Homo sapiens: one gene and its partners. The protein of the gene in region 1 purifies or fractionates together with the protein of each later gene. This does not show direct contact. Each region holds a gene or a part of one and is shown in the gene's direction. Other genes may lie near its edges.

Region 1 (3,500 bases):
ATCTCAAGCGATTCTCCTTCCTCAGTCTCCCGAGTAGCTGGGACTACAGGCATGCGCCACCACACCCAGCTAATTTTTGTATTTTTTGTAAAGACAGGGTTTCACCATGTTGGCCGAGGCGGGACCTCAGGAGATCCACCCGCCTCGGCCTCCCAAAGTGCTGGGATTATAGGCATGAGCCACTGCATTCAGCCCCAGAGGTAGTTCTCAATTAGAGTTTCTGGGGTTGAAATCAAGATGTTGGCTAGAGCTCTAATCATCTGAAAGCTTAACTGGAGCTGGAGAATGTGCTTCCAATCTCTGACATGTGGCTGATGACAGAAGGCTTTAGTTCCTCATTACACATACCTCTCCATGGGGCTGCTTGAATGTTCTCACGTGACAGCTGGCTTCTTCCAGAGCAAGTGCTCCAAGAGAGAGCAGAAGAAGCCTAGTCTCTGAAGCCTAACACTATCAGTTTTATCACTTTCTATTTATATTTTAAGTATAGTCCATACCCAAGGGGAGCAGAATTAGAAGAGAGGAATATCAAAGAATTTGTAGATATATTTTGAAGCTACCACAGTGACCTATGAACATAAACCAGCCAGCAGATCACTTAAGGAAATATCTGCCATTATCTTACCATTGTTAGCATTTTAGCCTATTTCCTTTCATTATTTTTTCATGTTTCTCCTTTTTACATAGTTGCAATCACTGTGTGTGTAAGTGTACTCACAAAATTTTATATTCTGCTTTTTTCACTGTGTGGTTATTTTCTGTCATTAGTGAAAAAGATGCCTTATCCCAAGTCAACCTCTAAGGAATGCTGGTGCTTGAATTGTTTCTACCTTTCATTCCCTCTCTCATTTCAGTCCTTTCTTTGATAGAAGTAATAAGTGTGAGATAGAGAACTAATGAAAGATAGACTCTGACATACAGAGATTAAGGAAGAAGATCCTTAAAGCCATTGGCCTTATTTATCAGATACCAAGAACCCAACCAAATAGCACTCAAACAAAAACTTTATGCTGTATAAATTTTAATTTTTATTATCTTCTCTCCTTGCAGCAACTACAGTTTCTCAACAGATGGTTTCAGTGGCTCAGGAGGTAGTGGCAGCCATGGTTCATCTGTGGGTGTTCAGGGAGGTGTGGACTGGATGAGGAAACTAGCTTTCCGCTACCGGAAAGTGAGAGAAATCTATGATAAGCATAAAAGCAACGTGGGTGGTAAGTGTGGCATATAACCAGTCTGATTCTCTGTTTCTTCCTGGTTTCCTCCTTTTCTTTCCAGGGATTCCTTAGATTCCCCATGACAACTGCTTATAAATTATGCCACAGTTATATGTTAAACTCTGTATTTAAAAAAATAGAGGTTTGGTTGAAACCTTTTGGGAGGAAGCTCTATATTTCTAACGGGCTTCTCTAAGCATAATTTTGGAAAGTTCTCTTGTTGTCTTTGGACAAATGCCTTTTTAAAGGAAACATGTTCTGTAGATTATGTTTGATGACATGTATCACAACTGCTGTCAACGCTAGTTAATAGGGTGCCACATTTTTTTTTTTGGCTGGTTTATATAACTATCAGGACAAGTTAAGTAGAACTAGCTAGTAACTTTTCGTGGACAGAAATCTAGGTCCAGGATTGTAGGTTGGTAGTATCAATGTGTTGTGATTTAAAGAATCTTGGAAATTCTTTCTGACCAGAAATATTTCAAATGCCAGATGCCACTAAGCCTAAAATTCTATTATTTAGAATTAATTAATCATAGATTGTTTGAATTAAAAGAGACAGAAGTCTAATCTGAATTCCTCATTTTACAGTTGAGAAAAGTGATGTCCATCATAGGGGTAGTGGGGGCAGCTTATTCATGGTCACATTGCAAATTTGTAACCATACCATGTTTGAAATTCACATTCCCTAACTTTTTGGTCCAGTGCACTTTCATGCAGCTCCTTTTATAGTGAGGTACTCTTTTGAGAAAATATTTAAAACTGTAAACCATCACCATCAAAGATACAAATACATACAAAATGTTGCTCAAAGATTCAGGGATTACATAGCCTGCCTAGAGCAGGGGTCCCCAATTCCCGGGCCTCAGACTGATACCAGTCAGCGGCCTGTTAGCAACCAGGCAGCACAGCCACATAGCAGGAAGTGAGCAGGCCGGCAAGTGAGTATTACTGCCTGAGCTCCACTTCCTGTCAGATCAGTGGCGGCATTAGATTCTCATAGGAGTACAAACCCTATTGTGAACTGCACATGCAAGGGATCTAGTTGCATGTTCCTTATGAAAATCTAACTAATGCCTGATGATCTGAGGTGGAACAATTTCATCTCGAAACCTCTCGCCCCCCACCCAGGTCCATGGAAAAATTGTCCTCTACGAAACTGGTCCCTGGTGCTGAAAAGGTTGAGGACTGCTGGCCTAGAGGTATTTTACTCAAGGTCAAGAGCCCTTGTACTATACTATGCTGCCTTACAATATGGCGCAGAAAGTAGGAACAAGACTTTACAGATCAATTTGGTTCATTTCAGTTACAGCTCTCTAATACCAGATAAAAATCATGGGCTTCCAGACTTCAGGAATCTAATTTACTTTTTTCAGATTCCCCTTTTTGTTGCTTATTTCTTCTCATGATTCAAAGCCAGTATTTTTTATTTTGGTAACTCCACATCTTTTTGCATTTTCTTTCTCACAAACATTAGCCTTTCTTTTGTTAGTTTTCATATACAGCCTGAGTCTCTTTATCTTTTCCCTGCCCAATGCCTGGACCTGGTTTCCTGAACAAAGCGATGTAACCCTGTGTGAGAATCCTCTGAGCCTACTTTGGAGAATAGATTAAAATTAATGGCCAGCTGTATGTTTTGTACAATATGAATTGATGAAAGCGCCACATCATGTATTAGTTGAGTATATCATATATAGGTACTGGTTTTGTTGTCGTTTTGTTTTATCCAAAATGTTAAGAGTCATCTAATTCTAGGCTTACATTGTGGAACCATCAATCTGAAAACAAATTATACTCCAGTTCTCCTCCTCACAAAAATGCCATCTGCTTTTATGGAGTATTACTAATAGAATACAGGATTTTTTTTTAACCTTCACTGTAGAAAATTCAGATCCAGATTTACTGCTTGAATATTTTAACTGAAGTGTCTGAGAGCAGGCTCCCATCATATGAGCTCTCTTTTGTGCTTAGATATCTAGTCTTGGGTAGTGTTTTAGTGTCTTATCAGTTGGAGTTGTTTCAGAAGTACAGTATGGAGAATTAGTCATTCAACCTGGAATTTCATGTCAACATGTTCTGAAGCAAGTGGACAAGTAGTCACCATGGAAGTTCTGTGGAGTAGTGGAAAGACTTCTTAAGACCAAAAGCTGCAAACTTACTGTGTAATCTTAGGGCCCTTTTTTTCATTGGGTTTCGTTTCTTTACAGAGAGATTAGAAATGCTAAGGACTCTTCTAGCTGTAACACTAATTTTTCGCACTTTGGTTCTTGATGTCATGTTCTAAGC
Region 2 (3,500 bases), on another chromosome or scaffold:
GGGATTCCAAAGATCTTAAAGAGTCACCCAAAAAGGAATCAAAGGTGGTTAGGGACAGAGGAGAAAAGGTCAGGATTAGCCTAAGGTTTAGCTACTTTCCTGTTTTATTTATAATATTTTTGTTGTTGTTGTTTTTAAATGTCCTGTGGTATTTTTGATTGTTTCTGTGCTGCTCAGCATTCTTCCGAGGTCAAGTTGCTTTTGGTAAATAGTGATGCTGCGTGTGGTGGTTCCCATGGGTGCTGGTCTCTCTGTGTCTTACCAGCTTTTCAAACTCCATGTATGTCATCTTTTCTAGACCACTCTGGCTCACATCATAGCCAGCAACAGCAAGAAACATAGCATAAGGTTTGTGACATTATCTGCAACAAATGCCAAGACAAATGATGTGCGAGATGTCATAAAACAAGCTCAAAATGAAAAGAGCTTTTTCAAAAGGAAAACCATCCTTTTTATTGATGAGATTCATCGGTTCAATAAATCTCAGCAGGTATATTAACTTCCTTCTACCTTTTGGTCGTTGTGAACATCAAACAATATAAAGTGTGTGAGATCACTATACAAACGCTAGAGACTTACGAGCTTTGTTTACAAAGAAGCGTAGGCTTGTGAACCCATCTCCTTCAAGCCTATTTCTCCATACATTTCTTAGTGTTTTTTGATAACAAGAAAATGCTTTCTCTATCTGATAAATGAAATGGTTGGCATATCCCTGAGCTATACGTATCAGAAAAGCACCTTTGAATCAAATTTCCAGTTTTAGGAATTTTTAATCTAAATACTAGGAGTCATTGTGAACAGTAAAATAATGATTTTAAGGTCATTATTTTAATGGGTTTTTAAAAATTACTTTAACAGTATTTTTATTTTGAAAATTAAACAATCGGTATTTTCTGTAACTCCAGGCTCTGTCTTCAAGGTGAATGTTGGAAGAGCTAATGATTACTGTTTATTTAAATGGGTTTCTGAAATAAAAGGACACAAGCTATTTTTATAAACAAAGCCACTTAGGGATTTAAAAAAAAATAAACATTAAAATTTTATTGGGCTGAGATCTGAGAGCTATACTCTAAATAAAAAAAAATTAAATTTTTAGGCATAACTTTAAAAAATTTTTTTTTGTAACTTTTTAATCATACATAGAATATTTCACAAAACTCTACTGAGCCTTTTTTGAACCTTTTTGAATAAAAAGACCCTTTTAAAGTTCTGACGAGGCGTTAGCATTCTAGGTTTCATATTGGACCACTGACTCATCTTAGTATTTTTTCCCCATAAAACAGCATAATAGGAATAATAATAATATGATTGAGTGCTTGCTGTGGAAGAAGATTCTGGAAGTGTTAATGTTTTTGTGTGTTCTTGTCTATAAATAAATAGCTGTTACATATAAGCTATGTGCCAGTTCAGCCTTTGGTAGAAGATGGTTTTCTGAGTAAAGAAATCATTTATGTTGAAACTAAGCTAGAATTCTACTTAAAGCTATTAGTCTACCAGCAAGAGATCAGGCTTGGACGGGCATTCCAGAAGATGTGTTTCAGACTTAAAAGCAAGAGTTGTACTCCCCCAAATATTGCATCTATATTCAGTGAATATAAGGCTGCTGCTATTCCTGAACTCGAAAGATAAAAATGAGGAAAAGGAAGGAAGGGATAGCCAACTTACATAGGATTCTGCAGGTGGCTGTTGACTGGAATCACTTTTTTCTGTTTTCCTCCCATGATTAGGACACTTTCCTTCCTCACGTGGAATGTGGGACGATCACTCTGATTGGGGCAACCACTGAAAACCCTTCCTTCCAGGTCAACGCTGCTCTTCTGAGCCGCTGTCGAGTGATTGTTCTTGAGAAGCTTCCAGTAGAGGCAATGGTGACTATTTTAATGCGAGCGATCAACTCCCTGGGAATCCACGTCCTAGACTCTAGCCGTCCCACTGACCCTCTGAGCCACAGCAGCAACAGCAGCTCAGAGTAAGTTGACAGTGTGCAGCGTCCTGGGGGCACACACCTCCCAGAGAGTCTCCTGGCAGGGGGCCAGAAAGGGCCGGGCGTCAGTGAGGAGAGGGTGGGGACAGAGAAGAAATGTTGATCCGCCCGTAATGAAAATAAAAGAGGAGGGAAATGTTCGATTATACCTAACAAAGTTATCCCTGCACACTTGAAGATGCATTTTCCAGCCTCTAATATGTGTTTCTATAATTCTTCAAGCTTTAACTTTGCTTTGTTGTTTTGGTTCTTGGGTGTTTGCTTTTGTGCTTAGGCTTCTATGGGAAGCCTTATTGATGATTTGAAAGGCTTTATGTCCCTCATTGAATAGAACAAATAGATAGATAAATACTTTCTAGACTTACCATACAACTCTTTTGAGCATTGTACTCATGTTTCAATTTCTTTTTAACCTGCAGTTTAGCATTTTGTTAAAAAAAAAAAATCAAGTAAAAATTAACTTGTAACCTTAAAATTATGTAATCCTTTTTGTGTAGTTGAAACTCAGTTTCATGAAAGTAAAGGAATGTTAACTGAATATGACATTATAGGCTGTCCCTATCCTTTTAGTGACCTATTTCTGCATCATGAGTACCACATGAGCTCGTTAATGCACCAAGTGTATATCATAGATAATTTGATTTCTTGGGTCAGGGGTTTTCCTTTTTTTTAATATTAGAACATATTCTTCAGATGGTATTTGTTCATACGTTGGCTGAAATACTGCCATGGAACATAATCTGGTGTGATGAGAGGCTATTGCCCACCTCCTCCTGCTGTGGACTCTGCAGCTGCTCGTGCCTGCCCTGAGGCCAAGTTCTGGAGCCACTTTTCTGTGAGGATTAAAGTACAAGGCATAGTTTAGGCTCAGGGTTTAGGTTTCACCAGGCTCTCCCTATGTGTCTGGCCCCATTTGCTCCTGTCTGAGATGGAGGGAGAATTCTGCTGTGTCTAATGAAAGCATTGAAACATTTGGCCCGTGGACCACTGGGTAGGACAGAGTGGCCTTGTTTTGGAATACCGTTGTGATGGGGATAGCCATTACATCTGTGGCCACAAGCAGTGTGTGGAACCTGTGGTATCAGCCACATGGACTCATACTCAGAAGTGCTTTATGTGGTGGGCATTTGTCAGAGCCTAAGGGGGCTGCCAGCTCCTCATATGTAGTACAGGTTGAGTATCCCAAATCTGAAATCCAAAATGCTCCCAAATCTAAAGCTTTTTGAGCACCTTCATGATGCTGTGAAAGGAAATGCTTATTGGAGCACTTCAGATTTCTGGATTTTGGGTGCTCATCTGGTAAGTATATAATGCAAATATTCTAAAATCAAAAAAATAGGAAATTCAGACCACTTCTGGTCCCAGGCACTTCAGATGTGGGATACTCATGTGTAGGTTTCCCGTAACAGAATTCTCATTACAGACGCATAGAACCACATGGTAAAGACAAATTGAAAGAAAAGGGGGGAAATCCTAACATGTTTCATGTTTCTGTGTGTTCTTTGCTCTGTGTACT
Region 3 (3,500 bases), on another chromosome or scaffold:
TCCCAATATACCAAAATGAGATTGATAAGATAATGGCAAAAGAGAGAAAATGGGACAAGTGGATTCTAAATGTTATCTCAGGAAGAGAGAGCATACTGACAATGTTATTTTAAAAGTTACCCATCTTTGCTGGGTATGATGGCACGTGCCTATAGACCCAGCTACCCAGGAGGATGGATTGAGCCCAGGAGTTTGAGACTGTAACATATTATGATAGTATCTGTGAATAGCCAGTGCACTCTAGCCTGGGCAGCATAGTGAGATCCTGTTTCTTAAAAAAAAAAAAAAAAGAAACGAACAAAAACAAAAAGTGTTTTTAAATTATCCATCTTTAAAATAAAATACCAAGAAGGCAAATCTTCAAACATACCTTTTCTTGTTGTTGTTATGTGTGTGTTTTGGTTTTTGTTTATGTGTTTGTTATTGAGACGGCATCTCACTCTGTTGCCCAGGCTGGAGTGTAGTGGTGCATCTCGGCTCACTGCAAGTTCCGCCTCCCAGGTTCAGGCGATTCTCCTGCCTTAGCCTCCTAAACAGCTGTGATCACAGGCGCACGCCACCATGCCCAGCTAATTTTTGTATTTTTAGTAGAGGTGGGGTTTCACCATGTTAGCCAGGCTGGTCTTGAACTCCTGGCCTCAAGTGATCCTCCTGCCCCAGCCTCCCAAAGTGCTGGGATTACAGGCATGAGCCACCATGCCTGGCCGTTATTGTTGTTAATAAAAGCTTCCTTTCAAAAACATTCTTGAGTTGGGTGGATGTGCTTGAAAAAAAATAGGACACTGTATTTCTTGTTCTTTTCCTTACTGCTTGAGGTGGTCAGAGTCCAGATAGATGGCACCTAACCAGTTAATGCCTTGTTTTGTTTTGTTTTGCCAAAGGTCGAGTGGTGGGCATACTTCAGAAGAACTGGCGGGATTATGTGGTGACATTTCCGTCCAAAGAAGAGGTCCAATCTCAGGGCAAAAATGCTCAGAAAATCCTGGTTACACCTTGGGATTACAGAATTCCCAAAATTCGAATTAGCACTCAGCAAGCAGAAACCCTCCAGGTAGTTGGCATTCTACCTCTACTATGGGATCTCTACGCTTTCTCCTTCTGTCTTTACCAGCTTTTTAGCAGTACCAGAAAGCATTGTTAATTCCTTTGCATATAAAGAAATAAATTATTGATGGCATCTGGCATTCCAAGATACTGGGATGTGTTTTTTGGGGTTTTTTTGTTGTTGTTCTTTTGTTTTTCCAAGACAGAGTCTCACTCTGTCACCCAGGCTGGAGTGTAGTGGCGTGATCTCAGCTCATTGCAACCTCCACCTCCCGGGTTCAAGCAGTTCCCCTGCCTCAGCCTCCCGAGTAGCTGGGATTACAGGCTCCCGCCACCACGCCCGGCTAATTTTTGTATTTTTAGTAGAGATGGGGTTTCACTGTGTTGGCCAGGCTGGTCTCAAACTCCTGACCTCATGATCCACCACCTCCACCTCCCAAAGTGTTGGAATTACAGGTGTGAGCTACCATGCCCAGCCGTGTTTTTATGTTTTTTAATTCTTTTTTTGTAGAGATGGGGTCTCACTTTGTTGCACACGCTGGTCTTGAACTCCTGACCTCAAGCAGTCCTCCTGCCTTGGCTCCCCAAAGTGCTGGAATCACAGGCATGAGCCACTGTGCCCAGCCCCAAGATTCTGTTTTTTAAAAATTCTAAATATATGAAAACCATCCATTAAGTAGTCTGTGGTTAATAAATTCAGGCCAGAGAGAAATTGTCCTAGAAAGAGCTGTGTAGGACAACCAGAGAGAACATACATTATCCAGCTGTCCAACATAGAAACTTTCTATAGATACACTTTGCCAACACTAACAAGCTTTCCTCCAGCAAGCAATATAGAAATACGATCACTCTGCCCTGTAGGGATGATGTAGTGGTACTTCACAGAATTGATTATCCATAAAGGAATATAGCACTGGAGAGAAGACATAAACAAGAAGGTTAGAAATTAACCTTTACTTGTGTCAAAAAGTATGGGCATTGCCCAATTTAATTCCCCCTGATATTTTACAGTTTGTAAATGAGACACTAAAGCAGGATGTCCCCAGCCAGTAACCTAGCCATTGTGCTTTTACATCTTGAAGCCTTATGCAGGCTCTCCAGGCCAGTTGCACCTAATACATTTTCCATTCCCATGGTTTGCTGGAATTTTGGGGTAGTGGGGATTCAGTTTACACGACACCTTCTTCTCCACCAAAGACCATCTTAAGAGGTCTTCAAAGAGACCAGGCGCAGTGGCTCATGCCTGTAATCCCAACACTTTGGGAGGCCGAGGCAGGTGGATCACTTGAGGCTAGGAGTTCAAGACCAGCCTGGCCAACATGGTGAAACCCCATTTCTACTAAAAAAAAAAAAAAAAAAAAAATTAGGTGGGCATGGTGGTACACGCTTGTAATCCTAGCTATGTGAGAGGCTGAGGCAGGAGGATCACTTGAACCCGGGAGGCATAGGCTGCAGTGAGCCAAGATAGCACCACTGCATTCCAGCCTGGTTGATAGAGCAAGACTCCATCTCGAAAAAAATAAAATAAAATAAAATAGACTTCAAAGAAATTAGGAACTACCTCCCACACACAAAACATTAAGATTGTTGTTTTAAAACTTAATTTGGAGCATGCATAATTGAGTTTTCCCCTAGTGTTGCAAGCGTTAACTAGAATATATTACAGTTAACTAGAATATATTACGGCTCTCTTCAGCAGACTAAAATTTCCAGCCCTCTTCATTGATGTAGAGAGGTAATGCCTCCCTTCAAAGCATTGGGTCAAGCATTTCATACCATCTGGCAATTTAGTAATAGGAAGAATGAAAAACAAAAAAAAAACCCTACCATACACCACTATTTGCACCTGGCCACTCTCCTTGGAACCCAGTATTGTTTGCCTCTTGTTTGTTTGATGCCTCTAATTGACCCACTTAACTCCTGGTGCTCAGCTGTGTTTTATTTTTTCCTTTTGTGCAGGACTTCAGGGTGGTCGTGCGCATCGATTCCTGGGAGTCAACATCTGTGTATCCAAATGGACATTTTGTGCGTGTTTTAGGAAGAATCGGAGATCTGGAAGGGGAAATTGCAACCATCCTGGTGGAAAACAGTATTTCAGTTATTCCTTTCTCAGAAGCTCAGGTCAGATTTTCCAGAAGGCTTTGATCTAGTGACATTTTCTTTTTGCTTTTGTTGTTGTTTCATCATTAAGAAAGAAAAGTCTTTGTGCTGTGGAACAACCCACTGTGTGAAGGCACAGATAATGGAAAAATCTCAATCCTCTTTATTCTATATTTGGACCAAACTGAAGTCAGCTTCAAGTGTAGAATTAGTTTTCTATAGCCTCATAGCTCTCAAATTTTTATATTTTCCAACTGGGCTTAAAAATGATATGTCAGTGTCTCATAGTCAGTATACATCCATCCCCAGCAACTACAAGGACACCTAGTTACAGACCCAACTGAGCTCCACACTCT
Region 4 (3,500 bases), on another chromosome or scaffold:
GAAAGCTGACTTAAATAAGTTTTGCTATTGAGGAAAATAAAAATTGAATGATTGAATGAATGCTAAAAGATACCTGAAGTTTTAGTGTCCTAGAATTTTCAAGCACCGAAAGAAAAAGTTAAATATATTTTTTGATAGAGAGATGAGAGTTAACACTTCCTTGGGGAAATTAGGATAAATTTTTCTATTTTTCCCCCCTCACACTTTGCAAACACATTTTATCCCCACTTCAACTCTATGAAGGTATAAGTATCACTATTCTTACTTGATAAATGAGAATACCAACACCTAGAGAGCTTGAGTAATTTGTCTAAGAGCACATAGTGGCGTTTGCTGAGATTTGAACACAGATTATCTGACTAAAGGTGGTGCCCTTGATCTGAGCACATATAATAGTGGTTCTTAAAGTGTGAGAATTGTGGACTGGCAGCATCAGCATCACCTGGGAGCTTACTAGCTCAGGCTTCATCCCAGGCCTACTGGATCAGAAACTCCGGGGATTAGGCCCAGCAATCTGTGTTTTAAGAAGCCTCCAGGTGGAAGACTGAGAACCATTGTTAAAGTTGTCTCTCACAGAGACATTCAAAGGAAAACTGATAAGGGACTTTCTTAGGCATTGTTTTAGAGATGTCAAGATAGTGGTGGAGAATATTGGAATGAAGGGATACCACAATGGCGAAGATAGACATATTTTGTGTATGAGAAGGGAAGTAATATCAGTAATGCTAAGAGGAAACAAACATGGGGAAAAAGTAGCTGTGTGGTTTGGGCTTCATGTTTTCAAATGAAATAATGGTTGGAATTAGAAAAGTGTTGTATGTGTCTGCCTCAATATAAATGAATAGGCCAATTATATAAGGGCAATCAAACACTTCAGGATTAAAGTTGAATTATTTCACCCTCATTGCAGGTGGCATCTATCTAGGATCAAAGAGAGATTCTCTTTTTTCTGCACATTAAAAAAACAAAACCAAAATAGTCTGTAAACTGTGATGGTTGATTATATGTTGGCTTATACATTTGTTGTTTATACATTTGTGATAGTTGGTTTATACATTTGCTAAATTTCATCATACTATACCATTAAAAGCAGTACTTGTTATATGTAAATTCTATCTAAATAAAGTTGAATTAAAAATGGGAATGTGTTCCTACAGCAAGTAATGAGTTCGTGTCACTGGAGGTATCTGAGCAGAGGTTCAGTAACCACTTGTCAGGAATGTTACAGTAGGGCTTCGCACATCAGAGAGGAGATTGACCTGATGACCTCAACATTCCTTCTACCCAGAGATTCCATGAGTCACAGTTGCTGTTGTGCCAGCACAGGTGTTGCCATTTTATGTAGAATGCTTTATTAATATATTTGATCTGAAACATTTTAAACTGTCATGATTTTAAAATGTATTAAGATACACAGGTGTAAAGCACAGAACAGTGATTTCATTCACTGTTCCCTACTGCATATTACAAATGGAAAGATCTCATAATAGATCAAACCGTATTGTAGTCTTGTTCCTGAAACATAACAATTTGTATTTATTGGACCAAGGGCATTTTACTCCTAAGGTAAATGTGCCTGATTTAAACTGAATCCTCAAAGAAGGTAAGTTAGGGAGGTATTTTGGGGTTTGATTTTGTTGGGTTTTTTTTTTCCATCAAACCCAACATGACATGTAAATGCTTATTTGGATTTTTTTTTTCTGGAAAGTAGATTCATTTGGAGAATAATATGTTTGTATGTTTGAGTGAATTTTAGCGTGAGATGCTTTTTGCTGTAAAGTTGCCACCCTTTTATTACCTAATAATTAAGACCCCCCCCTTTTTTTTATGAAAGTTAATTTGTCCTTTCGACATGGCTTATCAGATGCTATTAATGAACCACTATTAAGATGGCAAGGCTGCAGTACCCAGGGCCCTGATTACAGGAATTAAAATAGTGTGTGTTGGCTCCCTGCTGCTCCCCAGCAGGACCGCTCACTCATAATTCCTTTGCATCTAGTCTCAGCAGGAGAAGATTGACAGCATTGCAGACCATGTCAACAGTGCTGCTGTGAATGTTGAAGAGGGAACCAAAAACTTAGGGAAGGTAAGATTCTGCTCCTGCTGACAAATCAATGGTACTCTGGCTCCCAGGAATCTCTAGTATTAACCCAATTGATCTGCTCTCTTCAATGTTGAGGGAACCAGCAATTAAGGAAATAAGGAAGAAATGACACATAGGTAGTGTAAGAAATCAATGTTGTAATATTCTACTCTAAGATTCATTCTATCAGGAGAGGAATTTCTTCAAAGAGAGAATAAACTGTAGCTCTGCTGTAAGGCATTTGGTGTTACCAGGGAATATTTGCAGAGGGTAAAAGTGTAAGTATGTGACAGCACACATGGAGTGGGACCATCTATTTTCCATAGGATGTTGCTTTTAACCCCAGGCACACAGCACTGAATAATTTCTGTGCAACATAAAAGCTTTGGGGGAAATCTGTGGCTGCCGAAACAGTTTAAATAAGCCAGCTAGATAGTTAGTGAATTGATTGTTTTGCAAGTAAAATCAATTTGTAGCAGTCCACTCTTTGTAGCTCAGCTCTCTAAGTTCTGAGATCTGGAGCAATTGCAGTACCTGTGGAATACTTTCTTTTCCCCCCTACAAGTACAGTCTCTAAGGTTAATTATGTACCAAGAGTTAAAGAGGCATTGCCAGGAGTAATGAGAGGAAAACGCACATCACCACAGGCAGATATTCTCAACTCAGTTTCTAAATTGAATTTTTTTTTTTTTTACAGGCTGCAAAATACAAGCTGGCAGCTCTGCCTGTGGCAGGTGCACTCATCGGGGGAATGGTAGGGGGTCCTATTGGCCTCCTTGCAGGCTTCAAAGTGGCAGGAATTGCAGCTGCACTTGGTGGTGGGGTGTTGGGCTTCACAGGTGGAAAATTGATACAAAGAAAGAAACAGAAAATGATGGAGAAGCTCACTTCCAGCTGTCCAGATCTTCCCAGCCAAACTGACAAGAAATGCAGTTAAAAACCAAATTTCAGTATTATTGGTGCCAACATGTCTATCCTGAGGACCTTTGCTGCTGTTGGACACTCCGTCACCTTTTGGAACACAAGTATATCAAGATAGTGGCTACTGATGTTCAAGTGGGATTGAAGTGTGATAAATGGATATATTTTGTTGTTTGCTGGGGTGTTCATGGAGATGTTAAGAGATTGAGGCCCTGGGCTGAGGGTATATAATGTATGTCAGGTAAAGTTTGAAGACTGCCAAGGAGCAGATTTTCTCCCTGGAAATGTGAAAACTGAACCTATAACTCTGATAAGGACTTGAGATGTGTAGAAACGTTGGGTTATGGAAGACTAGTTTCTTCCATAACCCTGAATTGGAGACCTTAATGCTAAGTGTAGATTATTGAGGTTTGTTAGTGAGGAAAAGAATAAGAGTTCAGAAGCCTTTGTTATCAGATAGCGAAATCAGGGCCTAGTGAGGAGCACAGGTCGACTA

What was found. Proteins that work in one complex are often made in the same cells at the same time.
Region 2: the proteins of EYA3 (region 1) and WRNIP1 purify together in Homo sapiens (affinity purification with mass spectrometry, with the first as the bait; one large-scale study listed by BioGRID). This does not show direct contact.
Region 3: the proteins of EYA3 (region 1) and DIS3L purify together in Homo sapiens (affinity purification with mass spectrometry, with the first as the bait; one large-scale study listed by BioGRID). This does not show direct contact.
Region 4: the proteins of EYA3 (region 1) and STX17 purify together in Homo sapiens (affinity purification with mass spectrometry, with the first as the bait; one large-scale study listed by BioGRID). This does not show direct contact.

What each region holds. Positions count from the first base shown.
Region 1 is NC_000001.11:27,991,111-27,994,610, reverse strand, and holds part of EYA3 (protein phosphatase EYA3), read left to right. Parts: intron 1-1,050; coding exon 1,051-1,211; intron 1,212-3,500. UniProt on the Homo sapiens protein: Tyrosine phosphatase that specifically dephosphorylates 'Tyr-142' of histone H2AX (H2AXY142ph). 'Tyr-142' phosphorylation of histone H2AX plays a central role in DNA repair and acts as a mark that distinguishes between apoptotic and repair responses to genotoxic stress.
Region 2 is NC_000006.12:2,768,393-2,771,892, forward strand, and holds part of WRNIP1 (ATPase WRNIP1), read left to right. Parts: intron 1-298; coding exon 299-490; intron 491-1,665; coding exon of another isoform or gene 1,666-1,721; exon of another isoform or gene 1,722-1,727; coding exon 1,728-1,969; exon of another isoform or gene 1,970-1,984; intron 1,985-3,500. UniProt on the Homo sapiens protein: Functions as a modulator of initiation or reinitiation events during DNA polymerase delta-mediated DNA synthesis. In the presence of ATP, stimulation of DNA polymerase delta-mediated DNA synthesis is decreased.
Region 3 is NC_000015.10:66,317,568-66,321,067, forward strand, and holds part of DIS3L (DIS3-like exonuclease 1), read left to right. Parts: intron 1-881; coding exon 882-1,051; intron 1,052-3,003; coding exon 3,004-3,165; intron 3,166-3,500. UniProt on the Homo sapiens protein: Catalytic component of the RNA exosome complex which has 3'->5' exoribonuclease activity and participates in a multitude of cellular RNA processing and degradation events.
Region 4 is NC_000009.12:99,965,654-99,969,153, forward strand, and holds part of STX17 (syntaxin-17), read left to right. Parts: intron 1-1,999; coding exon 2,000-2,086; intron 2,087-2,780; coding exon 2,781-3,020; 3' UTR 3,021-3,500. UniProt on the Homo sapiens protein: SNAREs, soluble N-ethylmaleimide-sensitive factor-attachment protein receptors, are essential proteins for fusion of cellular membranes.